Linked DNA regions of Homo sapiens. The protein of the gene in region 2 interacts with the protein of the main gene of each other region in a biochemical or structural test. Each region holds a gene or a part of one and is shown on either strand. Other genes may lie near its edges. The genes, in order: KIN and METTL22.

Region 1 (15,212 bases), on a different chromosome or scaffold from region 2:
CTTTTTCTCTGCATTCTTCAAGAACCTGTCCTCTGGTCGCATTGAGTTATTTTCTAAAGAAATCATAAACTCTTCTACCTCCACTCCTTCCTCATTCTGTACACTCAGAATAAAATCTCTTCCTCCTTAGCCTTTTGTCTTTCCCCGCTGTCCTCTGACCTTAAAGACAGTTCAGAAGCCACCTCCTCCATTCAGCCTTGCTGTTTGCCTGGGGGGCACTAATCATTTTCATCTTCATTCTCACAGCATTTTACTTGAGCCACTATTGCACCATGTACTTCATTCTATCTTACATTCGTGATTATGTCTGCCCCTTGCACTAAAGTATTACTTTCTTGAAGTTACTGACCATGACTTATGTTTATAGTTAACACCAAACATTGCCAAATTTAGTGATTGCACATAGATTTTTTTTTTCCTTCACCAAGTATTTGTTGAATGGTTAAATGGGAAAGAGCGGGAGAGGGAGAGTGGGGATGGGGGAGCGGGAGGGGAGGGGAAGCAAGGAAGGATTATCTAAAATAATTAGGTTCAATAACAAAGGAGTACTTTCTTGGGAGTAGCTTGATTCTTCATTGCTTTTGGAATTGAATCATATTAATCTGTATGTCAACAATAATAGTGTGTCTCCTTTGTTTTCCTGCATTGTATATGGCTCCTTAAAAAATATATCTCCAGGCTGGGTGAGGCGGCTCACACCTTTAATCCCAGGACTTTGAGAGGCTGAGATGGGTGGATCACTTGAGTTCAGGAGTTTGACACTAGCCTGGGAAACAAAGTGAGACCCCCCATCTCTACAAAAAATACAAAACATTAGCTAGACATGGTGGCACATGGATGTTGCCCCAGCTACTCAGGAGGCTGAGCTGGGAGGATGACTTGAGCCTTGGAGGTCAAGGCTGCAGTGAGCCATGATTGCAACATTGCACTCCAGCCTGGGTGACAGAGGGAGATCCTGTCTCAAAAAACACCCAACTCTATTTTTCTGTCTACACACATATTCACACACGTGTATGTATGTTTCTTATATTTGTGGGTGCATATTTGTGTGTATTTCTTATTCCTTAAGTCTTTCTTATTCATTTTTTATCTCTAGTATCTAGTCTAGTGCATACATTTTTAGCTACAAAATAAATATCCACTATATTTGTAAAATAACATAGGGTTCTGAAGAAGGCTCCGTGACAAAGGGACAATGGAGTATGAACCACTGGGTCCCCAAGACCTGGAGGAGTACCGAGCATGTAGGAGAAGCACAATAAATATTTGTTCTGATTAAATTAAAGATGTTCAGGAATGACATAGTGCTCAAAATCATCTTCCTTTTAATGATTTTGTTTACGTTTTCTTTGTATATTTTCCAGTTGAAAATGACCCACATTTCATCATTTATCTACCAAAAAGCCAAAAGAACATTTGTTTCAATATTGACTCAGAACCTGGAAAAATCCTCAACCTGGTTTCTGACCCAGAATCAGGTAAAATAAAAATAAATTATATTTGCACCAATTAGGTCATTGTCATGCTTTCCTGTCACTGCCTGGGATTTCTTTCTTTCTCAGCTTAATAGAAGTTCTATATATTTCAGTGATATTAGTGAGAAATTAAATTATAAATATATTCTTAACTATTTTGAACCATTATAGTTCAAAATATATACTCTGAGTATGAACTTGCAGATCTTGTTGTGATATAATTAATTTAAATATGAGCCAGGAACGGTGGCTTACACATGCAATCCCAGCACTTTGGGAGGCCGAGGTGGGCGGATCATCTGAGGTCAAGAGTTCGAGACCAGCCTGGTCAAAATGATGAAACCCCACCCCCCACTACTAAAAATACAAAAACAATTACCCAGGCGTGGTGGTACACACCTGTAATCCCAGCTACTCAGGAGGCTGAGGCAGGAGAATTGCTTGAACCCGGGAGGTGGAGGTTGCAGTGAGCCAAGATCACACCATTGCGCTCCAGCCTGAGTGACAGAGTAAGACTCCGTCTCAAAAACAACAACAAAAAATTTAAATACTATATGATAGTCAATTATTTAAATTTTATAAACTGACAATTAAATTTTATAACTGATATAAAATTATTAAATTAAATTTTATTAAAATTTATAAATGTTATATTAACATGTTATAAAATGAGAATCACAAAGAAGAAAATGTTAATGTAAATCTTGAAGCAAAATTATAATAATTTTCCAATATTGCCAAGTTTTTATAAATTTGAATTATAGTACCCACACATGCAAAATAAATGGCACAGAAGAGAAAACATCATTTTTTTCTTTCCTGTAGGAATTGTAGTCAACGGTCAGCTTGTTGGTGCCAAGAAGCCCAACAATGGAAAACTAAGCACCTATTTTGGAAAACTGGGATTTTATTTCCAAAGTGAAGACATAAAAATAGAAATCAGCACTGAGACCATCACCCTGAGCCATGGTTCTAGCACATTCTCCTTGTCCTGGTCCGACACGGCTCAAGTCACGAATCAGAGGCAAGTATGATTCCATCTGAACTTGGGCCTGTCCGTGACACACGACTGCATAAATAAATCCAGGCATCAGTGACATCAACATTGAAAAAAAATCATCATTTTAAATATAAGGAAGTTGAGGTTCAGAAAAATTGTTCTCACTCCCTACTCTGTTCCTGGCAGTGGGCACTGTGTGTTTTTGGTCACCGTTGGGTCCCAGGACCTAGTCCAGTGCCTGGCATCAGTAAACACTCACTGTGTATGTGCTAATCAGTGAACAAATCCACCAGCTGAAATCCATACTGACTCTATCGCAGAGTGAGCTCCAAACGCCATGATTGTGTCCTCTGCGTAGAAGCTTCCCAATGAGTTTCTGTTAATCCATCATTTATCTATAAACTGTTGCAAGCGCTTAGATAACTAGCGGAATTGTCTGGGAGGAGTGAAGAGTTCATATTAGGGGTGAGAAGAATGACTTTCTCAAAAGGTCTGTTCTGGAATGGTTTAATTCCTCTTGGACTTTCACACCAGGGTGCAGATCTCAGTGAAGAAAGAAAAAGTGGTAACTATCACCCTGGATAAAGAGATGTCCTTTTCTGTTTTACTTCATCGTGTTTGGAAGAAGCATCCCGTCAATGTTGACTTTCTGGGAATCTACATACCCCCTACAAACAAGTTCTCACCTAAAGCCCACGGACTAATAGGTAAAGTGTCTATTGACCATCTGACAAGGGTGGGGCCGCTCTAATTCTTTAGCAGCTTTGGTTGACAGTGGTTACAAGTTGAGGACATGGCAGGTGTGGACTCATGAGCACAGAGGACTAACATAGCAGTGTGGGGTCGCTCGGGAATGTGACAGCCAGGACCTTTTGCCATTCCAGACAAGGTTGTCCAGGGCCAGGATTTCAGCATCACAAACTGGGCAAGTTAAGAGAAGGGACAGATACATTTTAAGTTTTATGTTAAAGATTTTTTTCTAACTGAAGCAAGATGAACCCATTTAGGAGGTCTGTGATAACAAGCAGAACACTCTGGACAAATGTCCCTAGTATTTTAAGAAGGGCTCAAATATAAAGCCTGTGACATCACAAACAAAACTTTTTCCTGTGATCTGAGCTATACTCTCAGGTGCTCACCTCATTCTCCTGCCATCAGGGTGCTCGATTTACTTACAATCCACTAGACCAACCTCATGTATAAAATGACCATGAGCTCCAGGCATGGTGGCTCGTGCCTGTAATCCCAGCACTTTAGGAGGCCTGGGCAGGTGGATTTGCTTGTGGAGTTCAAGGGCAGCCTGGGCACCCCATCTCTACCAAAAAATTAGAAAATAAAAATAATTAGCAGGGTATGGTGGAGCCTGCCTGGAGTCCCAGCTACTCAGGAAGCTGAGGTGGGATCTCTTGAGCCCCGGAATTGGAGGCTGCAGTGAGCTATGACTGTGCCACTGTGCTCCAGCCTGGGTGACAGAGGGAGACTCCATCTCTTAAATTAATTAATTCATTAATTTATGAGATGGAGTTTCTCTCTTGTTGCCCAGGCTGGAGCGCAGTGGCGCAATCTCGGCTCACCGCAACCGCTGCCTCCCCGGTTCATGCGATTCTCTTCCCTCAGCCTCCCGAGTAGCTGGGATTACAGGCATGCACCACCACGCCCAGCTAATTTTGTATTTTTAGTAGAGATGGGGTTTCTCCATGTTGGTCAGGCTGGTCTCAAACTCCCAACCTCAGGTGATCTGCCCACCTCGGCCTCCCAAAGTGCTGGGATTACAGGTGTGAGCCACCACACCCGGCCCCAAATCTTAAATTTAAAAAAAAAAAAAAAAAAAAAAAAAAAAAAAAGGCTGTGAGTAGTGGCTCACACCTGTAATCCCAGCACTTTGGGAGGCTGAGGTGGGTGGATCGCTTGAGTCCAGGAGTTCAAGATCAACCTGTGCAACACGGTGAAACCCTGTCTCTACAAAAAATTAGCCAGGCGTAGTGGCTCACGCCTGTGGTCCCAGCTACTTGGGAGGCTGAGGTGGGAAGAACACTTGAGCCCAGGAGGTGGAGGTTGCAGTGAGCCGAGATAGCACCACTGCACTCCAGCCTGGGCAACAGAGGGAGATCCTGCCTCAAATTAAAAAAATAAAAATAAAAAAAAGATGGTGAGCAGCACAAATGTGCTCCCAGGAAGGACCCTCCCTCCCATCACCACTCCTTTTTCCTCTCAGCTTGTCTTTCCACCCTAGAAATCCTGGAGGGAGGACCGAAAGGTAGCATGGAGTCAATAATGAGCCTCTTTTTATTTAACTATGATTACATGTCAATCAATGTCTGATTCTGTTTTGCTAGGCCAGTTCATGCAGGAACCAAAGATACACATCTTCAATGAGAGACCAGGAAAGGACCCTGAGAAGCCAGAGGCCAGCATGGAAGTGAAGGGGCAGAAGCTGATCATCACCAGGTAGGCCTCGGGCGTAAGGACAGTGACGAAAAGGCCTTGTGTTAGAATTAGACCCACACAGCAAAATAGAGGAGCAAAGAAGAAGTGTCGTAGGCACTACCTACATCACACTAAGCAGTTCATTAGGAATAGACGCACACAGCATTCGCATAAGGACACTTCTGATATCCCACGTTAAATGCAAATAATGACTGGGTATCTAGGGTCATGCAATGCCAAGATTAACTAACCTGTTGTTCTCATCTTCATACTTTAGAAGCCCTCACAAGAGCTTCACAAGTTGGATAACCAGACACGTTGATCAAAGGAGAGAATCATAAAACACCTATTACCATAGTGCTGCAGAATGAATGTAGATTTTTACATCAGGCTAGAGTTTTCCTTTTGCACAGGGATCTCTGACTGCTTTTTTTGTAGCTTTTCTTACACAAACCACCCCCATATGCTTCATCTGAAGTGAGAACTTAGACGCTCATAACGCATTCTGAGTGTAAAAGTCTTACAAATCTTGATATTTTTTCCCAGTCCTTTACAGTTGTCTCACCCATGCCAAATTTGATACCGTTTTAAAGCAGCTTACCCCTTTTTAGAGTTTTTACAAAGCAGCCAACTTTGCTTTATTAGAAAGGATTCTTCACGCCCACAAATGTCATTGGCTTTGACATACTTAATTAAACCATAACATTGTAACATAAAATTGTAGTCGGAAGTATTGCCACGAAAGTAGATTTGTGAACTGAAACAATGGATTCTTAGTGAATATGCCATTCAATTAGTATCAGTTTATGGGAGGAATGAGGTACCGACGGGAATCAGTGAGCATGTGTCACAGAAGCAATGGTGAGCACAAATTATTAATGTTAATAGTAAGTTATCTGAAGTTGGTAGAAGGGCATTTACTGCCAGGCATGGTGGCTCATGCCTGTAATCCCAATGCTTTGAGAGGCCAATGTGGGAGGATCACCTGAGACCAGGAGTTCAAGACCAGCCTGGGCAACATAGTAAGACTCCATCTCTACAAAAATAAAAATAAATATAAAAATAATTATCCAGGTGTAGTAGATTCTGCCTATAGCCCCAGCTACTCAGGAGGCTGAGGTGGGAGGATCCGTTGAACCCAGGAGTTCGAGGATGAAGTGACTTATGATTGTGCCTCTGCACTCCAGCTTGGGTAACAGAGAGAGACCTGTCTCATAAATAAATACATAATATATAAATAGGCCAGGCGCAGTGGCTCACGCCTGTAATCCCAGCACTTTGCAAGGCCTGGGTGGGTGGATAACCTGAGGTCAGGAGTTCAAGACCAACTTGCCAACATGTTGAAACCCCCCCCATCTCTACTAAAAATACAAAAATTAGCCGGGTGTGGTGGCGGGCGCCTGTATTCCCAGCTACTCGGGAGGCTGAGGTAGGATAATCACTTGAACCCGGAAGGCAGAGGTTGCAGTGAGCAGAGATAGCACCACTGCACTCCAGCCTGACTCCATCTCATAAAATATGTATATATATTTATATATACATATATAAATAAATATATGTATACATATATATATATATTTACTATAATGACAAAAAGTAAATGCTGGGCCTCGATTTGGTCCACTGCAAGCACCTCATGGTTCATAACTGAAACTGAGCTGTCCCGTGGGCTGGGCACAGTGATACTTTTAAGTCTCGTTCACGCAGTGTGAACGAGATCCTTAACAAATTGTTGGCTACTTTGCCCTTCAAGTGGAGGACATGAATCTGCTCAGAAACAGCAGGTATCACTCTTAAACACAGAGAAAGTGCAGTTAAGAGGTGCCGCCAATGCATTCTTTTTTTTTTTTTTTTTTTTTTTTTTTTTTTTTTTTTAGTGACAGAGTCTTGCTCTGTCGCCCAGGCTGGAGTGCAGTGACGTATCTTGGGCTCACTGCAACCTCCACCTCCTGGGTTCAAGCAATTCTCTTGCCTCAGCCTCCCAAGTAGCTGGGACTACAGGCGTACACCACCATGCCCAGGTAATTTTTCTTTTAATTTTTAGTAGAGACAGGGTTTCACCATGTTGGCCAGGCTGGTCTTGAACTCCTGGCCTCAAGTGGTCCGCCCACCTCAGCCTCCCAAAGCGCTGAGATTACAGGCGTGAGCCACCATGCCTGGCTGCTGACTCATTCTTTAAGTGACCTGTGAGGTCAGCCTCAACACTGTGGAGTCTTGTTCCTGCCTTCTTTCCATTGGCTACTGTTTCCCTCGCTGGAAAAGCCCATATAGGTCAACTCTAAGGGTTCTTTGAGTTCTCCAAGGACGCTTCGCTGATTCTCTGTGCTTCCAACACCAAGCCCCAGACTTGGTGTTTCTTTTTCACATGACTTGGGGAGCAGCGATAGGTGGGGGGCGGCAGATGTGGTGACAGAAGGAACACGAAGAACAGCAAGGAAAAGAGGGAGTCTTGTGTCTAGAGGTGCTCAGTCTCCCCCTAACCACATGCCTTGCTTCCTTGCAGGGGCTTACAGAAAGACTACAGAACGGATCTAGTGTTTGGAACGGACGTTACCTGCTGGTTTGTGCACAACAGTGGAAAAGGATTCATTGACGGGCATTACAAGGATTACTTCGTGCCTCAGCTCTACAGCTTTCTCAAACGGCCTTAAAGGTTTATAGTTTGGGAAATTATATATATTAATATACATCTTTCCCCTGTCACTTTTGCAGATATTCTTCGGTTTGAATAATTAAAATGAACCAGATATCAGGGTGGTTAATTAAAATGAACCAGATATCAGGGTGGTTTATAAAGCCTGTAAACACACCTAAGAAAATAAACATTTTACAAATGAGCTTTTAGGATTTTGTTGCATTTTTAGATGCCGAAGTGTGTGGATCAAGGTGGTGCCGAGACAAGCCAGCGTCTGGAAGAGCCTTAAATTTGGTGTTTACTGTGATCATTTATTAATATCTTTTCTTTCTTTTTTTTGAGACAGGGTCTCGCTCTGTTGCCCAGGTTGGAGTGCAGTGGCGTGATCATGGCTCACTTCAGCCTCAAGCTGGGCACAAGCAATCCACCCACTTCAACCTCCCTAGCAGCTGGGACTACAGTCGCATGTCACTATGCCTGGCTAATTTTTGTTTTTTGCAGAGATGAGGTCTCACTATGGTGCCCAGGCTGGTCTCAAACTCCTGGGCTCAAGTGATTCTCCCGCCTCAGCCGTCCAAAGTGCTGGGATTACAGGTGTGAGCCACCATGCCCAGCTGATCATTTCACTGCTGTTGAGTCTCAGGTCCTCAACCTTGCAGATCGCGTCCATTTTTACACTGCTAGTTACATGGGAAGTACAATTATGAGAGGGTTATATGGTGAGCATAGAACAAGAAATGGGGGTTACTTGATCTTAGGTGCTTCGTAGAGATTTATACTAAAGCCCTGTTACCCTCTGTAGAGATTTATACTAAAGCAAGGATAGCCTTGCTATGGTGCCTGTGATAGCCCAGTATTTTTAGCCAAGATTCTCTTCATAGTGTTGGTCCCTGGGTCCCTTTTGAGTTTATGAGGCCTGGATTAGCCATAGTTCTCCAGGAAAACAGAACCCATAGGAGATTTACAATAAGGATTGGCTCATGTGATTATGGAGGCTTGTAAATCCAAAATCTGCAGAGTAGGCTGATGGTACAGGAGAACTAGGGAGGAGCCAGTGTTCCAGCTCAAAAGCCATCAGGCAGGAAGAGCTGATGCTGCAGATGAAGTTCGAAGGCCGTACACTAGAGAATCCCCCGACTTTGGGAAGTCAGCATTTTTGTTCTATTCAGGCCTTTGACTATTAGACGAGGCCCACCCACACAAGGGAGGGTGATTTGCTTTACTTTTTTTTTTTTCTTGAGATGGGGTCTCCCTTTGTTGCCCAGGCTGGAGCACAGTGGCACAATCTCGGCTCACTGCAACCTCCACCTCCCGGGTTCAAGCGATCCTCCTGCCTCAGCCTCCCAAGTAGCTGGGATTACAGGCGTGAGCCACCATGCCCAGCCCTACTTGGAGTTTTTGTTGCTCCCAAATTCTGCACATATTTAAAATCGCTCAGGATGTTACCTCAGATGGCTAATTATACACATTGTTAATGTTGCTAAATGAATTCTGAATCATAGTTCCAAATTCTCTGGAAGCCCTCTGTGTCTGTGAATCAAGTTTCACACAAATTTAATATACCTTGAACACAGCATCTTTTTTAGTACTCCTGGTAGAACTGTTATTTCATTTGCATTTAAACCATTTCTGAGTAATACCACTTACATGCTAAATCTTAGACTTTATTTCAAAATAAAGTAGTAAATTATGTTCTAACAAAAGACCAATGACATTTATAAGGGAGAATAAAATAAGCAACAAATTTAAAGCGAAACTAGGTTACTTTATGCTGTCTGCATTTGTATAGTGGATTTTGGTGCTAAGATGCAAGTCTGAACCAGTGTAATTCTGTGCTTTGCTGTGTTTACAACTTTCCTTAAAAAATCAATTCCTAAAATGAACGTATTTTCAAAAGTCAAATTGGTGAACTTGCACTTTAAAAAAGCTTTTTAAAGGCACATTTTTATGAATCTTCCTTTCCATAATCTGGTAAAAATCATTTTTCATTGTAGAGGCAAAACTCTTTTTTTGGACATATCCAACCCATATTTGAAAAAGCAAGTGAGCTCCTCTAAACCTAATTGCAAAATCTTAAGGAAATCTGATTGTTTCTAGAAGCTAAAGATTACTGGCTGGGTGTGGTGCCTCATGCCTATAATCCCAGCACTCTCGGAGGCCAAGGCAGGAGCATCACTGGAGGCCAGGAGTTCAAGACCAGCCTAAGCAACACAGTGAGACTCCCATCTCTTTATAGAAATAAATAAAAATAAAGATAAACTTAGTGCTGAAGAGGTAAATAGCACTACCTCTTAGTTTTCTTCTTCTATAAGAAGTGCTCACCTATGATACCCTTTTGAAAAACCTACTGCATCTTTTCCATTTCCTATTTCAAAAATAGAAAAATATTAAATATTAGAATGCTAATATTCAACATAAACTTCAAAAGTGAGATTTTAGCATTAACTCTGTTATTTGGTTAAAATCTTGAATTTAAAACTTCTACCTGCAGATATTAAGTTTAGCTTTTAGTATTTTATGTGTGCACAGTGGTCTTAAAAGTAACGATGTACTAAAAATACAAAAAATTAGCCGGGCGCGGTGGCGGGCGCCTGTAGTCCCAGCTACTCGGGAGGCTGAGGCAGGAGAATGGCGTGAACCCGGGAAGCGGAGCTTGCAGTGAGCCGAGATTGCGCCACTGCAGTCCGCAGTCCGGCCTGGGCGACAGAGCGAGACTCCGTCTCAAAAAAAAAAAAAAAAAAAAAAAAAAAAAAAAAAAAAAGTAACGATGAAAATCTTGGGGTGTTAAAAAAGAATAGCTTAAAACAAAATGAGAAGACAGGCCACTGACTGAGAGAAAATACTTGCAAAAGACACATTCGATAAAGAACACAACTGAAATATACAAACAACTCTTAAAATTCAACAATAAGAAAATGAGTAACCCAATTAAATAATGGGCAAAAAACCTGAAAGACATCTCACCAGAGAAGATATACAGGTGGCAAATAAGCCCATGAAAAGATGCTCCACATCATACTTCATCAAAGAAATGCAAATTAAAGCAATGACAAGATCCCACTGTACAGCTATTAAGATGGCCAAAATCCAGAACACTGACAACATCAAATGCTGACGGAGATGCAGAGCAGCAGGAACTCTCATTCACTGCTCGTTTGAATACAAAATGGTACAGTCACTCTGGAAGACAGGTTGGTAGTTTCTCAGAAGACTCCTGGCATATGATCCAGCAATTGTGCTCTTTGGTCGTTACGTAAATAAGTTGAAAACGTCTATCCACAAAAAACCTGCGCACAGATGTTTGTAGCAGCTTTACTCATAATTTCCAAACCTTGTAAGCAACCAAGATATCCTTCAGTAGGTGAGTGCATAAACTGTGGTGCATTCAGACAATAGAATATGCAGTGCTAAAATGAAGTGCGCTATCGAGCCACAAAAACCTAACCAAAACAACATGGAGGAACCTTACATGCATATGTTCTACCAGGTGAAAGAAGCCAATCTGAAAAAGCTACACCCTGTGTGACTCCAACTATATGACCTTCGATGGAGACAAAACTAGGGAGACAGTAAAAAGATCAGCGGTCAGCAGGGATTTGGGGGGAGACAGGGAACAGACAGAACACAGGAAACTTCTAGGGCAGTGAAACTGTTCTGTGTGATACTACAGTGGCAGATGCATGTCATTATACATTTGTCAAAACCCACAGAGACTGCTCTAAAAAGTAAAGTCTATGTTTGAAATAAAGAAAAATAGCTTATGATACTTCAAAAATCAAAGTCTAATATGAGACCTGTTGTTAGTTATCTGCAGTCATTTTGCTTAGCATAAACTCTATCAAGTTCTACAGACTCAGAGGGAAAAAACTACTGTGAAGTCTATAATCGTATTTTTATGCTTCAGATATTTTTTATTGAATTTAACCTCAAGTATGCTGCCTCATTTCATTCTGAAATAATTTCAGAAAGACGTTGGAGAATTAAATGTGGGAGGCAGACATGAAACATTTTTTCTCTGAAGAAAACCACCAAGTTGATTCCAAACGTACATACTTGGGGGAGGCATATGTAATTTGTCTGGTTTTACTCATCACTATTTGTTATCAGGGAGAACCATTCTCCTTTTTGAAATTCTTCAGACCAGATTCTTAGTAGTCCAGGCTCAACTTCTTGGCTTCATTTCTGGACATGACCACTCACTGCCATTTATTCAATACCTACTATGTGCTGGACTTCATGTCTGATGATTTATATGTATTTTCTGTAGGTCTCCCATCAACCCTGCTGAAAAACATTTTGACAATTTATACATTAAAAACATTGCAATTCAAGAACATTAACATTCTAATATTACAAAGCCAATGAACAGAACTGCCAGAATTTGATCTAAAGACTGCCCACACCCAAAACCCAGTTGCTTTCCATAATGTGCTGTCAGGTTACTTTGGAAAAACCTTAATTCATCCCTGAGGAACATTTTCTGTAAAGCTTCTGCCATCATCCTATTAGTATTTCTTTACTGCCTCTTACATTTCTGCTAACAGCATACGTTCTCCCATCTTCTGAGAATAGAAGCAATCAGCCCTCCCTGACTCTCAGTTAAAGAGAGAGATCCCAGGGTTTGGCACCATACCTGTGTCTGACGTCAGCTTATACCCATCCTCATGTTTGAAGTGATCATCCTGGTATGGTCTGTTTTTTGTTTGAACTCTTGTAGAAGATCAACTCAGGCAAGGCGTGGTAGCTCACACCTGTAATCACAACATTTTAGAAGGCCGAGGCAGGAGGATTGCTTGAGCTCAAGAGTTTGAGACCAGCCTGGGCAACATAGCAAGACCTCATCTCTACTAAAAATCAAAAAAATTAGCCAGGCATGGTAGTGCATGCCTGTAGTCCCAGCTACTCGGGAGGCTGAGGTGGGAGAATCAATGACCTAAGCCCAGGAGGACGAGGCTGCAGTGAGCCATGATTGTGCCACTGCACTCCAGGCTGGATGACAGAGCAAGACCCTATCTCAAAAAACAGAACAAAAAAAAAGAGGCGTAGTGGCTCATGCCTGTAATCCCAGCACTTTGGGAGGCTGAGGCGGGCAGATCATAAGGTCAAGAGATCGAGACCATCCTGGCCAACATGGTGAAACCTCATCTCTTCTAAAATTACAAAAATTAGCTGGGCGTGGTGGCGCATGCCTGTAGTCCCAGCTACTCAGGAGGCTGAGGCAGGAGAATGGCTTGAACCCGGGAGGTGGAGGTTGCAGTGAGCCGAGATTGCACTACTGCAATCAGCCTGGGTGACAGAGTGAGACTCTGTGTCAGAAAAAAAAAAAAAAAGAAAAAGAAAAGATAGATCATCTCTCTCTTCCCGGTGCTGCTGAAGGGTAAGATGTAAACCTAGAGTGCTCAAGAATGTAAATGTAGAGAGCCAGCACAGGAGCCAGAGACAGAGCGGAAGCCCAGGGAAGGCTGTTCACACCCGGTCCCGCTGCCCTGGAAGCTAGCGTCTGCTCCTTTCAGTCATGTGCACTACAAATATCCCTTCGTTTTTCCTTTGGCACAGGCAAATGTGGGTTTCCTGTCTTTTGCATTCCCTAATAATACACTGCCCTACTTATTTCAAACTGTATGGTTAGGCAGGGTGCTGTGGCTCACACCTGCAATCCTAGCACTTTGGGAGGCTGAGGCAGGAGGATCACTTGAGCCCAGGAGTTTGACAGCAGCCTGGGCAACACAGTGAGACCATGTCTCTAAAAGTAAAAAAATTAAAAACAAATAAAACTATAGTTCAACATTGCTGGTAGGACTGTAAAATGGTATAGCTGCTCTGGAAGAGTTTGGCAGAAGCGAAAGCTTCTGTTCACATAAAATCCTGTAAATGGGTGATCATGGCAGCATTATTCACAATAGCCAAAAAGTAGAAACAATCTAAATGTTTATCAGCTGATGAATGGACAAACAAAATACGGTACATCCATACAGTGGAATATTAAGCAGCCATAAAAACAAATGAAGCACGCCTACATGCTACTGCATGGATAAACCTTGAAAACATGATGCTAAGTGTAAGAAGCCAGTCATAAAAGATCACATATTATATGATTCCATTTATAAGAAATGTCCAGAAAGGGCAAATCCATAGAGACAGAAAGTACATTAGTGGCTGTCTAGGGCTAGGGCAGAGGGGAAAAATAGCGATTGACTATTAAAGGGTTTCATTTTGGGGTATGAAAGTGTTTTAAAATCAGACAGTGGTGATGGCTGCACAATTCTGCAAAAATACTAAAAACCACTGAATTGTATGTATATTTTAAATGAGTGAACTGTATGGTATATGAATTATTACCACAATAAAGCTGCTTCTATATTTATAGTTTGACATTTAAAATTTAGTCACACTTAGAGTTCAACTTTACTACTCTACTACTGAAAATATAGAGTGTATGAAGGATTTCCTCCAATTACATGATTCTAAATTGTCATAGATAAAACACTTTATAATAACATTCTTTAATGAAGATATAAACTCATCAAGTAAATTACAAAGGAAACAAAAATAACAAGGACAAAATTACATAGTTTGATACCTCATGAGACATAATTAAATTCTTCTCAAAGTTTAGCTGAACAACTATACAGTAATATTTTCAAAAACCTGTTTGTTTTATACAAAAGAATATACCCTAACACAGTAGAGTCTCATAATGCCTTGGCGAACACCAATTTGATGCTTTAAGATTTTAATGTATTGTTAACAAATTTTCAAACTCAGGCAAGTTTAGAAATGTCTTCATATTGAATTCCTTCAACTCTGCGTCCTTTTAAAGGGCCCTACAAATTAAAATAATTTAAAATAAGGTTAAAAACACATATTCCTAAAAGACAAAAAAATGACACCATACTTATGGATACAAATTTGCCTTTTCCGCATCCCTAAAATACCATTAAGATTGTTAACATTTGTATACATCTATGAATTTTAAGAATAATCTATGGCATTCTCATTAAGAACTACCATATTTTCTTCTGTGACATCTGACATACGTTATCAATAGACATTGTGGCAGAGACCTGCAAGCTGTTCAGTATCTCCTCTGCTTCCTGGATAAATAGCCAGTTTCCTGGCTCCCTTGTGGTTAGCTGTGGCCATGCATGGAGCTCCAGCCCATGAAAGCAAACAGAAGTGACGGTCCAGACGTGCTATAACTGACACACAATCTGCCAAGCTCCTTTTGCCTGCCCAGTGCACACAGACATGGCAACTGGAGATGCCACTTGAGGGCAGTAGAGGCACTAGCTGGAAGGACCCTGGGTTCACAAATCGCCACTTAGAAAGAGTTCCCTGATCAAAAATACCCATTTGGGGTTTTTAGAGTGAAACGTTAACTTCTACCATGTTTGTGCCATTGTCCATTTGGGGTTTTCTTTTTTTTATAGGAAATATCATTTTGTAAGCATTACGATACTCAAACATGTTTGTCTAGGTTGGCTGTGATAGTTACACTGGTCCAGATTATAAAAAGAGTCCAACTTTAACTTTATTTTCTTCTTTCATATCGAACAAAAAGGGAAAGAGGAAAACTTAATTAATGAAAGATATTTTCTATCACAAAAGCGGATATAACCTGGGAACACAGAGGCTAAGAATATGGGCTGTGAACCTACACTCCCCAAGTTCAAAT
Region 2 (15,680 bases):
TTCCAGATGCTGAATTGCTGGGTGAAGAAGTCTGTTTCGTTTTACAGCTTTTGCTGTGGATTCCGAACGATCTTCAGAAAAGCTGTGGACTACTGTTAAGTATTACAGGAGAATGTGTGTAGCTATCACAAGGTGGGCACTCAATAAATGGAACCTAACATTTCAGGATATTCTAGTGGAAATGTCTGGGTGAGGCTGTTGGGTGAGGAGCTGTCCGATTCAGCAAGAGAAAGAGACCTGGGGGAGCTGAAGAGACAGACGGCACCACAGAGAGAACATTCAGGAAGAGAAGCTCTCAACAGTGTGTGCTGGCCAAGCGTTGAGGTTCCAGTACAGTCTGCATTCAAGTCCTTGTCTATCACTAACTAGCCGTGCCCTGGCCAAGGCCCCTGATGCTTCCCAGCCTTCCTCTCTTCATCAGTCAAGTGGGACAGCAGCGCCTGCACACAGGGCTAGGATGCAGATTCAGTGCAGTAACGTACACAAAGGATGAGCACAGACCTGGCACATAGTAGGTGCTCAATAAGTGGCACTGAGTAACAATCATAATGACACTGACAAGGACACAATTAGGAGGTGAGAGTTCCGCTGACACTCGGGACGTCAGCACGGTTCCCGTGGCGCAAAGCTCACCTCTTCTCCACCGACAGTATGGCTGTGCAGGCATTTTTCAATCTGTGGGCGAGTCGGGAGAGCGTTTTAAACACAGCATCAGTCAAGTCGTCGTCGTAAAACACTGTGGGAAGCAAAAAGGCCAGCATTAGAGGAAAACACGCAAATATTACAGAAATCGACTTTTCAGAGCAATCCGCACAGAGAGAATGCTTATCACCACGGAACAGCAGCAGCTTCCAGAATTAAAACTGCAGATGTGGTGGCATGTACCAGAAAGTCACTTCTAAAACTGAACTCCCGGGGGAAGTGAGGAGAGACTGCACTTGACTTCATGCTACAACAAAGGACGTGTACGGCGAAGGAGAAATTTTCTTACCTTCGGCTGCAAACAGGATGGTGGTGTGATCGTACAAGTCAGAAATTTCCTCTTGTGACCAACTGAAGGGGACCTTGGGATCTAAGAAAGAACAAAAGCACACTTTGTGCCCATTGCCTTCTCTCCTGGCCACCAACTCTCACTGGGACTGACCAAAAGGCACTTCAAGAGAAGAAACAGGGCTGGGGGTAGCTCGGTGCAGTGGGCACCACCAGGCAGACCAGACTCCCTGCTTCAGGCCCACTGCTGCCCGGGTGCAGAGTCATGGTGGAAGAGGTGCCTTTTCTGCTGAGTGTCTGCTCTAGCCAGTGAGCAGCGGGCGGATTTCAGCCTCACCCGCTGCCTTGGCCTGTGGCCCAGTGCAGGACATGATCTCCCCCTTCTGCCTGCTGGGTGGCCCAGGAAAACAGCCTCAGTTTTGCACTCACAGAAAGGGCACAGTACTACTTCCTCACAGGACTATTGGGAGGGCCGAAGGGCCTACGGTGCGCAAAGTGCTAGGCAGGTGACCAGTACTCAAGGAACGACTTTTCCCATCTGCCATCTGACAGGGAAAAAAAAAAAGACATCTTTATACAAAGAAAGAGCAAGCACCCAGGTCTGAAGTAGTCTGTGTAAGAAATATGGAAACTGTCCTACCCGGGGGGTTTCCTGGCACCACTGTTTGTTGGGAAATGGTCTGTGCCCCAGAGTCTGACAAACTCGGGTCTATGCCCCTACCCTGCTGTGTACCAGCTGTGCCCATGGGCAGTCTGCACTCACAATTCAGGGATTATCATGCTACCACACAGGGAAACCACAACACCTGGAGAAGAAAATGAACGTGAGGTGCCCAGCATGCAGCAGGCGCTCAGAGAATGACAGCTGGTGCTCATCGGCCAATGGAGAGAAGCTGCCATGCGCCGATGGGACTGTGGCAGCAGCTGGGACTACAGCTCTGTCAAAACCACAGAGCCAGGGGCACTGAGGTATTACAAAGGAATCACTGAATCATACTGGGGGACGTCCGAGAGAAACACACACCTGTGCAGAGGTCGTCCTTCAGCCAGTCCAGTTCTTTGACCCTAACTATACCACCTGTAAAAACAAACAAAAAGAGAACTTTCCAAACTCTAAACATCATCAGGAAAAAAAGATAAACTTTTACACTATATATGAAGATCCATCTATCCACCCACCCACCCTTGCTCTCACCCATCCACCTTCCTGCCCTTCCATCTTTACAGCCAGCCAGCCAGCCAGCCAGCCAGCCATCCACCCACCCATCCATCCATCCATCCATCCATCCATCCATCCATCCATCCATCCATCCATTCACCCACCCACCCACCTGCCCATCTTCCGGCCCTTCCTTCTATCCATCCATCCATCCATCCATCTACCCACCCACCCACCCACCTATCTTCCTTCCCTCCCTGCCTCCCTCCCATCCATCTTCTCATCCTTCCTTCTAGCCATCCATCGATCCATCCATCCATCCACCCACCCCCCCACCCATCTTCCTGCCCTTCCATCTATCCATCCATCCATCCACCCACCCATCTTCCTTCCCTCCCTCCCTCCCATCCACCCATCTTTCCATCCATCCATCCATCCATCCTCTCATCTACCCATCTATCCATCCTTCTGCCCTCCCACCCATCCACCCACCCATCCTTATTATCCTCCTTCCCTCCTCATCCATCATCCATTTTCTGTCCCTTCCCTCCATCCATCCGTCCATTCTTCCAGCATTTTTTGAGTGCTACGTGTCAGGGACGGTGCCAGACATAGGGAAAATAAAGATTTAAGAGTCATGCTCCCCATCCTTGCAGACCAGCTCCCCTAGGAGAGACTGGCAGGTTAACCAACAACGGCAAGACTGTGTGGCTGGGTGATGCCAGAAGGATGAGGCAAACGCACAGGAGGAGAGAGAGGAACTCATGTCAGACAGCGGATGTCAGGGAAGGCTTCCACCAGCATGCTCCCTCCATCCTCCCAGCTCTGCTGACTGCCTACTGTACCCTGAGCACTCAACAAACATTGTGACAGTGCAGAGCAAATGCAGACAGGGTACCTGCACCCACAGAGCTTGTAGTCCGGTGGGAATGGAAAACACCAATAACTAGTCACACGAGCAGATGGTAAAATGCAATCATGCAACGTGTGCCTGGAGTCTGTTGGGGGCTCTGGCCTCAAATCTGGAGGTCTGAAGCCCCGAGGGTGATGAGGACTTGCCGGGAGGAGGGACGGCAGAGCACTCAGGCAGAGGGAAGAGCAAGGGCAAAGGACTCGAGGGAATGTGATTTGAAAGACGGTGAGGTCGGCTGTTGGTGGTGGGGGGCGCTGCAGACAGACAGGGGCCAGATCCCCAAGAACATGAGACAAGCAACAGTAAACCACTGAAGGGCCTGAAGCCTGGGGGGCTGCTCGGAGGAGGCGTTAGGACATAACTGTCGTCACCCATCACATACACTCATCCCTGCAGGCCGTGCAGGGAGCAGAGAACCAGGCAGATGGAGGCGGAGGCCCATCTGCGCAGGGGGACTGGCCTGTGAGTGAGTCCTGGCCGTGCTGGATGCAGGGCTGGAAAGGAGACTGTCAGGAGGAGGCAAGGAGAGCAGGCCGGGGCTGGGCCAGGGAGGCCTGGGAATTCAAGGAGCTCAGACTTCACCCCACAGGTGATGACGCCCCTGGGAGGTTTTCAGCAGCAAGTGAAGTGGACTGGCTTGCATCTGAGAAAGGGCACTCTGGATGTTTCATGAGGACATCTTGGACGGGTCAACTAAGGAGCTGGGGAGACCAGCTCAGGGGCCGCCGCCAGTGTCCGGGAGAGAAAGAGCTGGAGTAGGATGACGCAGTGGATCTGGGAATGAGGAGGTGACCCAAGGAGCGTCCTCAATGCTCTGAAGCTCTGTGATGCCCAGACGACGCCTGCTCCCCTTACTCACCTGCTGCAAGGGACACAGACGGAGCCCTGCCTCCCAATGTCATGGTCTTGGGTGTCTGTCCTATCTGCTAAACAGAGAAACCTCCCTCCCTGGCAGAAGACCCCCTGGGCCTCACCTCCAGTGGCAGCCAGGTGGCTGTTGAGGGCAATGTTTCGCTGGCACATGGACAAGAGATCTGCACCGACATCTGGAATGACAGAGGGCAAGCCATAAAGTGCCAGCCACTACGACACTTTTATCTCCATGTTTTTTGCCTAGAGAGAGCTGTGATCAACAGCACAACTGCAGAAATTAGAGAAACGTTTCTCCTATGTGTCTTACTGCCAAAATTAAATACCCTCACCTTAAGGCTCTTTTCATTGGCTTGTTCCCTAAATAAGAGATTCTCCTCCTGATGGGGAGAGACAGTGCGCATTCCAGAGGGAAGGAGTGTGAGCTCCCAACATCATCCGAGCACATGCAACACGCGTGCACTTCCCTAGTTCATCGTTTTCATGTTTATGGCCACACAGGAGCTGGGATCATGAATCCCATTTCACGGATTAAGTGACTTGAGCAAAGTCATGCAGCTATTGAGAGCAAGAGTTGGGATTTGATCCAGGTTTTTCTAACTCCAAATTTAGGCTCGTTCTTTGACACCCTAGGAAAACTGACTGGACCAGTTTTCCGGTCAGAAGGATTTTTTCTTATGATTCGTCAGAACACAGAGCAGATTCAAACAGGCTGAGCCCACTCTCTTGAGCGCGATTCACTTTGCTGCCACCCAGATCTCCCTCCCAGCCGCCTGCTACTCTGACAAGTGGGATTTCTCATCATTTCAAGAACTAACTTGGGGTACAGTGAATCCTCACTGGCAGAAGCAGTGCTTTACCAAAAATAAACTTCTAATTAGAAGAATGTGCATGTAGAAAGTACAGGATGTCTTGTTAATGACATTTGCTTGGTCCACTGTGGGCGTGGACCCACAGTGCAATCTCCCTGGGACTAACATCTGCACCCCAGGGGTCACACAGAGCCATGTACGGGAGGAGCTCCCTGCTTGCAGAAGGGAGGGATCTACCCTATCTCCTAGGCCAAGAGAATACTGATGATATGTACCTGACAGCACACGATGGGCTTAGCAGTTTTTTGGAAACGGAGTTTCGCACTTGTTGACCAACTGAAGTACAGTGGTGCAACCTTGGCTCACTGCAACCTCCACTTCCCAGGTTCAAGCAATTCTCCTGCCTCAGCCTCCCAAGTAGCTGGGATTATAGGCACACGCCACCATGCCTGGCTAATTTTTTTTTTTTTTGTATTTTTAGTACAGATGGGGTTTCACCGTGTTGGCCAAGCTGCTCTCAAACTCCTGACCTCAGGTGATCCACCTGCCTCGGCCTCTCAAAGTGCTGGGGTTACATGCATTAGCCACCACGCCTGGCCAGGGTCAGCAGTTTTTAAACCTTTATGATAGTTTCTGTCAAAAGCTTTTAACCTATAAAACAGGTAAGAGAGGAGCAGCTCTGGCTGAGTGGGGTAGGAGCCCTGGTGCCCTGAGTGCGTTCTCCCCAGCATCCCTCGGCCAGCTTGTGGGAGCTCTGTTCCATGCAACACAATCTGAAATTCCACCACGTGACAAGCACACTGCCCTGTGGGCCAGCAGGTCCACATCAAGGGCCTCGGGTCTCATCAGCAGCTGTGGATGACCTTGGGCCAGCCTCAGTCTGCCCATTTGGACAACAGAGATAGGAACCCTGGGCTCTGCCCAGAGTCACTGTGAAGTTACAGCCAGGCACTGATGCATCTGAAAGGACTTTTCCAACTGGAACATGGCATCTAAATGCAAGCTTTCTTCCCCATGCTGGTAAATCTCTCTCAGGGATAAGACTTCTTTATAGTCTGCTATTAGGCACCAGGGACGAAGCAAAGCTCTTGGACGGCTTGACTCTGAGAAGAGCTCACTGATAATTTACATGACATTGTCAAGAAGCAGCCAATAGCGTGGCTGCACTGCAGACTCCTGACCAGTGGTTAACAGCATATTTGAAAACAGTGCCTCAGGGACTGGTGATCTCTAGCTTCTTCCTTCCTATCTCAGAAACAAAAGTCTGTGCCAGGTAACGTTCACTAGGAAGCAATGAGGTGTAAACCACATCAGCTGATACCTCTTTTTGTCCAGCAGATACTAAAGATTTAAAATATAACAACAAGGTTCACTTGACGAGATCACTACTCTCTTGTAAACAGGTATATTTGTTCTAAAGAAAGCACTCTGGCACGTTAGGAGTTTAGTTAACTTCACTGGCTGGTTTTCATCACTGTACTATGGTTGTGTGTGATGTCACCACTGGGGAGCCAGAGGAAGGGCATATGGCACTTGCTGGATTATTTTAACAACTCCTTTTGAGTCTGAAATTATTTCAAAATTAAATACTAAAAAAGAAATTAGTTGGTAATGTTCATCAAAAGCTTAAGAATAGTCTCACCCACTTCTAGGAACCTAGTGACACGTTATTAGACAACGATACACAAAGATGTTCATTGCAATGTAACTAACACCGCCCACTCCTAGGAACCTAGGTGACAGATTATTAGACAATATACAAAGATGTTCATCACAGTGTAACTGACAAATGCAAAAAAAAACAAAAACCAAAAAACCAAAACCCATAGGAATGGCCAAAATGCTCAGCAATAGGAGAAGGGTTACAAAGAAGATGAAATATTATCTGGTCATTAAAAGTCATATATAAAGTTTGTTTTTTTTTTTTTTTTTTTGAGACAGAGTCTCACTCTGTGGCCCAGACTGGAGTGCAGTGGTGCAATCTCAGCTCACTGCAACCTCTGCCTCCCAGGTTCAAGCCTCCCAAGTAGCTGGGATTACAGGTGCCCGCCGCTACCACATCTGGTTAATTCTTGTATTTTTAGTACAGACAGGGTTTCACCATGTTGGCCTGGCTGTTCTCAAACTCCTGACCTCAGGTGATCTGCCTGCCTCAGCCTCCCAAAGGGCTGGGATTACAGATGTCAGCCACCGCACCTGGCCTATATAATAATTTTTTAATGGCATGAGAAAATGCTCTTAAAATGTTCTCACTTATGAGTGGGAGCTAAACAACGGGTAAACATGGACATACTGAGTGGAAACACAGACACTGGGGATTCCAGAAGGTGACACGGTGGGAGGGGTGGGGGATTAAAGCTTCCCTATTGGGTACAATGTTCACTATTTGAGTGGAAGGTCCACTAAAAGCCCAGACGGATGTCATCACTGCAATATAGCTGCACATCAGAAACCCGCACTTGTACCCCCTAAATATATACATATTTAAAAAAGAAAATGCTCTTAAAAATGTTTTTCAACATTTTCAGCAGAATACAGTGCTGCTGCAGCTTGATTTCAGCTATCATTTGGAGGAGATTCTTACAACGTAAGCGCCCTGAGGGCAGTGCCTAGTCAGCTCCATTCACCGCAGGGCCTCCTACATCTAGAAATGAGTGGCACACGGGAGGTGACCCATAAGTTGCATATTGTTGATTCAATCTAGGGATTGTAAAATTATGAGTAATTTTTATGTACTGTTTTAAAAACCTCCTACAAAGAATGGGCAAGGCTTCTATACCCAGGAAAAAAATAATAAACTTGCTTTCAAAGGCTTCTAAAAGGGTATATTCCTCCTGTTTTTGGAGATATTTGCTCTTTCTCAGGAGTGGGGAGAGAGGTACCAGCAGGGGCGCTAGGCACCTCCTGAAGCTCAATGGCCTTATAGCCACTGGGTGACGCTGCTGCTGCTGAGTGGGTATTGCTGGGTCATTTTGATGTCACTGAGAATAAATGGAGAGTGGAGAGGGCCAGGGGACCAGGATGGCAAAATCAACAACAGCTAACATCCAATTTCCAGTGCCTCTGCCTCTTTTTTTATACAGTCAGTGCATGCTTTGTGAAGGTGACTACTTCCCTGCAGCCTGAGATGTCACCTCATTACCTGTACAATAAACGGTCCGTGCCATGGTGGCTGCGATGATGCTAGCGAGCCCCGTGCCGGCCCCGAGCTCCAGCGCTGTACATCCTCGGAAGAGGTCCTGTCGGAACAGGATGTAGTCTGCCAGGAGCAGGGCGCCCCGCCACACCTGGAGGGAAGAGGACAAGGAGCGACAAGCAGCGTGAGGCTCTGCAGGGACCCATCAGGGCCACAGGAAGCGGACAAGACCTACCCACCTGCTTGCCAACATCCTCCAGGGGCGTGGCCATGGTGTGCTCTGGATGGGACAGAAACCAAGAGAAATGCCCACTGTGAAATGGGGATGGACAGAAAACCACAAGACAGGACAGTGTGGCAACCGCCAGCACGGTCAGATGGGCGTCAGAGGTTGGAATGAGGCGTTCTAGAGAGCAGCAGAAACACAGGCTGTGCTACTGGTTAGGAGGCGACTTTTGAGCACCACTCAGAGGATGGGAGCTTTTTGGAATGGGGCTCACACTCTTTCATGTAACTGGGTATCTCTGCCCTACAGCCCAAGGCTAGGGAGGGTCACAATTAGGTTTTCACGCAATTTAATTGCACCCACATGCAGTGCACTACTTTTTTCATGACCAATAATTGCAAAGTTACAATCATAATATATTAATTTATATACTACTAATAATCACAATTCATTCAAAAGTATTTTCTTATACTGAGAAACATACTTAACTTCATTATTTTCTCATACTTAGAAATCTACATTAGAAGTTAACAAAAAAATAAGTTTAAATTTACATCCTTTTTAAAAACGTTGAAAAGTAGTATAAGTATTCTCAAGTGCAAAATATAATATATTTTGTATTTATAATATACCCTAATAGGATCAAATTCTGGTGGAGGGGGGAACACAATGGAAATATAAGATCAAGGAGAAAAGGAATGAAGCAAAGCATTTTTTGTTGTTAAGTAAGAACTTGCTTGTCTAAGAGCTCCCGAGGAGGGAAAATAACTTGCTCAAGTATTTTTAAGTGAGATGGTAACAGCTATCGCCAATCGCTCTGTCTGTCCCCGAACCAGGAAAGAAATCGACTGTGTAGGGTCCTCTTGGGCACCTGGGCCACTGTTCTCTGAGGGCTCCTCCTGGGAAAATCTGGCCAAAGATTTCAGCCCTATGGGCAGTTAGAATCTGATCTCTGAATAAAGTGACTAATGGGTTGTCCACCAGCATCTTGGCTAGATTTGACATGGTGGCTTACAAGGCACTTTTAATAAAACATGTTCCTTTCAGAAGGGCTTCAGATTGCTACGTCCTAACACGTAGTCACCTGGTTTGAAACTGGAACAGAAATACACCTGCCGAACCACCTGATGCAAAGTTCCTTCACTGAACCAACATTCACTAGACAGACACATTCTGTGAGCAAGCCCTGGGTGCCACTGAGATTCTACCTGATTGGCTCACATGTATATTACAGAGAAAGACACTGACTAAGGTTCAGCATTACTGTTTGTAAAGTTAATAGAAAAAAAAGCACCTTCTCTGCATGAGGCACTGGGCTAAATGCTTTCTCATTTAATCCTCAAAATCACCCAATGACAGCTTCGAGTATTATTGGATGAGGAAAAGGTGGCTGGGTGAGGTTAGCAGGCTGTGGTCACAGAGAGGGTGAGTGGCAGATGCGGGGTTCCAAGTCAGGTCATCTGCAGTTTTCTGTCTCTTTCTGTTTTGAGACAGGGTCTCACTCTGTCATCTACGCTGGAGTGTGGTGGCACGGCCAAGGCTCACTGCAGCCTCCACCTCCCAGGCTCAAGTGACCCTGCCACCTAAGCCTCTCGAGTAGCTGGGGCTACAGGTGCATGCCTCCATGCCAGGCTAAATTTTTTTAGTTTTGTAGTTTTTGTAGAGATAGGGTCTCAGCATGTTGCCAGGGCTGGTTTCAAACCCTTGGGCTCAAGTGATACACTGCTTTGGCCTCCCAAAGTGGGATCATAGGTGTGAGCCACCGTGCCCGGCCTTTTCTAGCTCTTCAGCCTGCTTGGGGAAGGGAGATGTAGAATCTGAACCATGCCAGGGACACGGTTTAAAAAGCCTGGGGCAGAGCCTCCCAGGATGAAAGGGACAGGGACTCGCTGGGCAGGCTGAAGGCTTGTGTGCTTGTGCGTGGAGGGGAAGGGGTGTCTGTGGTCTACAGACCCCAGGCCCTCTGTGTCAGCGTCCCTGCCCAGTTCCTCTTCCCCAGTCCCACCCATGCCATCTCCTGGGTGTGGCTCGTAGCCTCCTCTCCTCTCCTCTCCCTCCATTGGCCTGGGAAAGCTTCCTCCTTGCCATCTGCTCCCTAACCCCAGCTGTCCTAAGGGTTCCTGCTGCCAGGGGAACCTTCTCATAGTGATCTTGGTCCTATGTGATTGGTCACTTCCTTCCAGGGGTCTCGTGGACGTAAGTTCTGCCTCCCAGCTGTCCTCAATGGGTGGCTAGCTTCCCTTGAGGGAGAATGAGGACTCTGAGGTCAGAGACCTGTATGACAACCCAGTTTTGTCATTTCCTAGCTGGGTGACAAGTCACTTAACTTCTTGGAGACAGAGCTACAGTTTCCTCTTTTGCAAAATGCAGAAGTAGCCTCATCCCTCATTTCTAAGGCTGTAACAGTGTTTAACCAGACAGCGCTTCTGAGAGAGCACAGGCTCGGCAGACATCTGAGAACCATTGAGGTGGTCAAGGACCCCAGCCCTTGCACAGGTGGAGATCACTGAAGCCCAGAAGGGGGACATGACCAGCCCAGGGTCATAGTCTGAGAAAAAAACATCTAATTAGATCAAAATGTGTCGAGATGGCCGGGTAGTGGCTCACACCTATAATCCCAGCACTTTGGAAGGCTAAAGCAGGAGGATCGCCTGAAGCCAGGAGTTTGAGACCAGCCTGGGTAACGAAGTGCAAAGTGAGACCCATATTTTTCTAAAGCCAAATAGAAACAAAAGAGGATTTAAAATGAAGTCATTTGGGAGTCTGACCAAGAACTGATCTAAGATGTGCTTTCTGCTGATGCTGATAACACGAGAAAACACCAGGGCGAATTGATAAGGGAGAGAACAAGAGGCTCAGGGATGGATCAAAGGAAGAAGCGGATGCTGTGCAACTCCCTGGGGCCAGATGGAAAAAGCCAGAATGAATTCCCCAGGAAGCTGAGTGTGGCCGACCTTAAGGGCACTCTCCTTTCTTGTGTCTGACATCCTCGACTCCGGAGTGCAGAGATTCCGAGGTCTACCCGACCCCTGCCCCGTTTCAGGCACTTGCTAGTGTTCGAATGGGTAAATATGCTTCTTCATGACTCATCAGGATAGTCAGAGATCACAACAAATGCCCAGTATGTCAGCCCTGGGCCGGGCGCGGTCCAGGTGGCTGCATAGGGGTGAGGAAGAAGGATTCAGTCTAGGGGTGGAGGCCCAGGTGACTTAGGGACCTCCCTACCCAGGGCCATCTTGGGGCTCCCACTCCTGTGAAAAGTCAGAGTTTATATTTAAATAATCCCAAAGGTATCATGAGAACATAAAAGACCAGCCTGAGGAACTATCCCCATGAGAAACTCTAGGGCTAGCAATGGGATGAGACAGTGTTAGAATCTCACCTGTCCTTATCAGATTCTAGAATTACGTCTTATCTCATTTGCAAACTGGGTCTCTAGACCTGCAGGAACCTAGACTGTTCGTCAGCCAGTCTCCCTCCTCCCAGCTTGGGCCAGTCCCCAGGACAGAGGCTTACATTTACGGAACACTGAATCCGTGCCAGGCATTACGCTAAGAGCTTTGTATGTGCTGTCTCTCTGAATTCCTTACAACTGGAGGAGGTTGTACCCCTTGTACAGACAAGGAAACTGAACTCAGAGAGGCTAAGCGACTTGCCCGATTCTCCAGCAGGAAGGCACGGGACTCAGAATCTGACGGCCTGAGTTCCAGCCCTGCCTTTCTCGAGTTCTCTTGGGGTCTCACTTTATTTCTACAGTGGGGGAATTGAACATAATTTCTTTTGAATCCTGGGTCTGTGGATTCCTGGCAGATCCCTGGATAAACTTTTTAAGGTTTTGTCAATCCCTTGGAATAGTTAAGAAAACACCTATTTTTCTTTTTCTTTAGAAAAACCAGTTTCTCAAATGGGTCTATAACTTGAAAAAAATGGGTTGATTTACGGGTCAGAGGAAAAGGGTTGTGAGGCGAATGACGTCTGCTTACCATCAACTCTGCGCCAGGCCCTGCTCCTGGCGCTCACTGGGCATGTTTCAATAAATTATCACTAAAACCCAGGGACAGTGGTTCCCCTGATCACGTGGTTCTGACCATGTGGTTCTGAGTGGGTAAGACATTTGTCTCTGGTCACCTGGCTTGTGAAGATGGAGCTGGGCTCAAAATCCAGCCCTGCAGGATTAGATCAAGTTTTGCAGATGAAAGTGCTCTAGCCAGTTTGAAATAATCACGAATTACTACCTAGGTTCATGCATTAGCTACCATTCCACTCTCCTCCGTCAGGGCAGGTAGTGAGTGACTGACAGCTGAAAAAGTGAACTTCCAGGTATACAGACAAGGGGGCCTCACCGTGAGGTCACCGGAACAGGGCAGGAGGGGAAGCTGGTCACAGGCCAGCCTCTTCCCGAGGGACTTTGTTCTTAGCTCATACAATGGTAAATTCCCAGAACATTCACTACAGACACAACAATTCACTGTGGAGTAACTGACAGGTTTGCTCCCCAGCTTGGGGAGGCTAATAACAGTGAGGGCTCAGAGGGAAATGAGCCATCGTCGGCCCCCCTGAGAAGCAGGACTTTCCAAGCCTCTTTCGAAAGCTCTGCCCCCATGATGTGGAATGACAGCACAGGCTGTGGCGTCAGACAGACCTAGGTACAAGTCTCAGCTCTGCCACTGACTAGCTGTGTGACCCCAGCAAGTTCCTCAACCTCGCTGAGCCTCAGTCTCTTCCTCTGTGAAATGGGAATACTCATCCCTATCTGCAGAGGCCATGAGGGCAGAGGTCACCCATGGGATACATGGAACTGGGTTCTGGTATGAGTTCCACGTTGCCCTCTCTGGGACAGTCTAGAACAGAGGCTGCTTGGTACCACCGTGGAGGCGCTTAGTAACTGTTTGCTGAGCAGATAGATACAGAGCTGCTGTTTTGTCTGTTTTTGAGAGTGACCCACTGACCCCCATTCTCTGACCAAAGGCCAGTGCTGGGGGAGGCCTTTCCCTGGGAACTCAAGACACCATCGGGGACCCTGGATCTCAATGAACGGCCTCAAATCACAGCTCCGCTCCCCAAATGAGCAGCGCCAGGGGGAGGCAAAGCCCTGGTGTGGACACTGTGTGGATTCGAAGCTCGCTCACCACCACCAAGCAGCATGGCGCTAGGCCTTTCACTTCCTCATCCATGCACCCCCTCAGGAGGGGTTGTGCAGACTAGGCCACTCGATACTAGTGAAGATATCCAAAACACGATAGGTGCTTAACCAGGACCGATCACTTCCTGGCCCAGCTCCCTACTGCTCCCGGTGTTTCTAGAGTGCCAGGTCCCTAGATTTCAAATCCTAGAGTCAGCAAACCCCTCTGCTCTGCCCCCATACCTGGGTAGCAGTTCCTCTTTGATCCCACCTCTGAGTATCTGTCCAAACCTCTCTCCTGTCCCACTTTTCCCGCCACTTCATCACTCCCCTTTCTTACCTGGCTTCTAGCTCCCAGCTCCCAGTCCATCTGACTGGTCCACGCCCCATTCATTTTCATTTACATCCCTCTCCCTCTGCCACACTCCAGCTCCAGAACCTCCCATGGCTCCCTACTGCCAGCCCAGCCAGGCCAAGCCTGTCCCACACCCCCAACACGCTGAGTTAGAGCAAGAGCACAGATGTGGGAGGCAGCAGCAGGGAGGCTTCCTGGAGGAGGTGTGGCTGAGCTGGAAACTGTACGGCAATGGGGAACATGTTAAGGGAGCAGAGGCTGGGAGCAAGCACTCCAGCAAGGAGGCACAGCACAGAGAAGAAAGCGCACAGGGTGAGGCTGTGGTGGTGTGAGCCGGGCAGGAGTGACGGGGTTGTGGAGAGCTTCCCCAGTCTCACCCGAGCTGGTTCTCATAACCTGTGCTGCCTGGGCCTGCAGAGTCCACGCTCAGATCATACTGAGCCCTGAGCAGTGACACTGCGGAGTTGCCTTGGTGACAGGTGGGCCACATCACACCTCTATTTACCTATTCTGATGATATCGTGCGGGCTGCCTTGTGCTTCCTCTCCCAGGACGTCGTCTTCTTCCTGTGCTAGAATCATGGGATGTACCTTGTCTCTCAGAGGCCCTGCTGGGTTGGAATCAGAGGCGGCTCGTGGTCTTCTCACCACGTCCAAATCCCCATCCTCATCCAGCTGAGCTTCAGCCACTTCCTGGCCAGTGGTGTCAGTCCCGGCCTGGAGGGAGAAACCCTCATTACCATGGCCACTTCCTGGAGGGGACCCTGTGCTGCCTGTCTCAGCAGAAGGAGGCTCCTTTGTGTGAACATCTCTGTGACTGCCACCCTTGGCTCCTGAATCTGTCCAAGAGTCTTGGCTCCATAGAAGCTTGAATTGGGACAGGAAAACTGAAAGGCAAGACAGAACGCAAAATGAGAATTCCAAGATGTTTTCTTTTTTACCTTCCTCTTCTTCTTTGAGAATATCTGATTACCAATAGGAAAGATTTTTAAAGGCCAGGTAGAGATATACTAATGCCAGCAGAAAAGGCCCACTTGATTCAGCTGTGACCACCACCAGCCAGGAGGCTGGGGCCACCACCAAGAGCAGCCGCCATTTCATGAGAATCTATGAGGCACTTGGCTCATATCAGCTCATTCAATCTCCACAATTGCTGTGAAGATACCATTATCAGCTTCATCTTACAGACCCAGAAACTGAGGCTTAGAGGACTAAGCTGACCAAGGCCACACAACTTTTAGGAATGAGCTCAGGGGCCTCTCCTCTAAGCTCACACAGCATCCCGGGTTTATGCCAGTTTTTGAATCTGTCCGATCATCCATTCATTCATCACCGAACACTGTGTGCCAAGTACCATGCCAGGTGCTGGGGGTACAAAGCAGGATTTGGTATGTTAGGGCCTTACATTTTAGGAGTGAAGTTGGGGAAGAAACATTAAGCAAGTAAACAAGATAATTACAGGCTGTGTTAATTACCAGGAATATAGTAAAACTGCATTCTGTGTGACACAGATGTGGCAACCACATAAGGCAGGGGTGAGCAAACTTTTCCTGTAACAGGTTAGATAAAAAAGTTTTTTGGCTGGGCATGGTGGCTTACACCTGTAATTCCAGCACTTTGGGAGGCCAAGACAGGAAGATTTCTTGAGCCCAGGAATTTGACCAGCCTGGGCAACATGGTAAATCCCCTTCTCTACAAAAAAATTATCCAGGTATGGTGGCATGTGCCTATAGTCCCAGCTACTTGGGAGGCTGAGATGGGAGGATCACCTGAGCCTGGGGAGGTCGAGGCTGTAGTGAGTCAAGACTGCACCACCGCACTCCAGCTTGGGTGACAGAATGAGACCCTGTCTCATAAAATGTATCTATTTTCAAGCTTTGTGGGCCCTGTGATCTTTGTTGCAACTCCTCAACTCTGCCGTTATAGCACAAAAACAGCTGTAAAAACACGTTAATGACTGGGCATGGCTGTGGCTTCATAAAACTCTTTATAAAAATAGCTGCAGGCCAGATTTGGCTCACAGGCTGCAGTTTGTATACCCCTGGTATAATGTACCATCCAAATTAGGGCAGGAGGTCAATGGGAATTATTAATAATC

What was found.
Region 1: of the proteins of METTL22 (region 2) and KIN, one has a biochemical effect on the other in vitro, tested with the Homo sapiens proteins (2 studies listed by BioGRID).

What each region holds. Positions count from the first base shown.
Region 1 is NC_000010.11:7,741,782-7,756,993, forward strand, and holds the end of KIN (DNA/RNA-binding protein KIN17), read right to left. Parts: exon of another isoform or gene 14,368-15,212; intron 14,362-14,367; coding exon 14,299-14,361; 3' UTR 9,181-14,298; downstream 1-9,180. Other genes in the region: ITIH2 (inter-alpha-trypsin inhibitor heavy chain H2 precursor), read left to right, coding at 1,365-1,478, 2,301-2,499, 3,010-3,182, 4,812-4,923, 7,406-7,553. UniProt on the Homo sapiens protein: Involved in DNA replication and the cellular response to DNA damage. May participate in DNA replication factories and create a bridge between DNA replication and repair mediated by high molecular weight complexes.
Region 2 is NC_000016.10:8,627,519-8,643,198, reverse strand, and holds part of METTL22 (methyltransferase-like protein 22), read right to left. Parts: intron 14,470-15,680; coding exon 14,089-14,469; intron 8,161-14,088; coding exon 8,120-8,160; intron 8,032-8,119; coding exon 7,887-8,031; intron 4,109-7,886; coding exon 4,037-4,108; intron 3,837-4,036; coding exon of another isoform or gene 3,778-3,836; exon of another isoform or gene 3,523-3,777; intron 2,069-3,522; coding exon 2,015-2,068; intron 1,073-2,014; coding exon 992-1,072; intron 737-991; coding exon 634-736; intron 1-633. UniProt on the Homo sapiens protein: Protein N-lysine methyltransferase. Trimethylates KIN at Lys-135 (in vitro).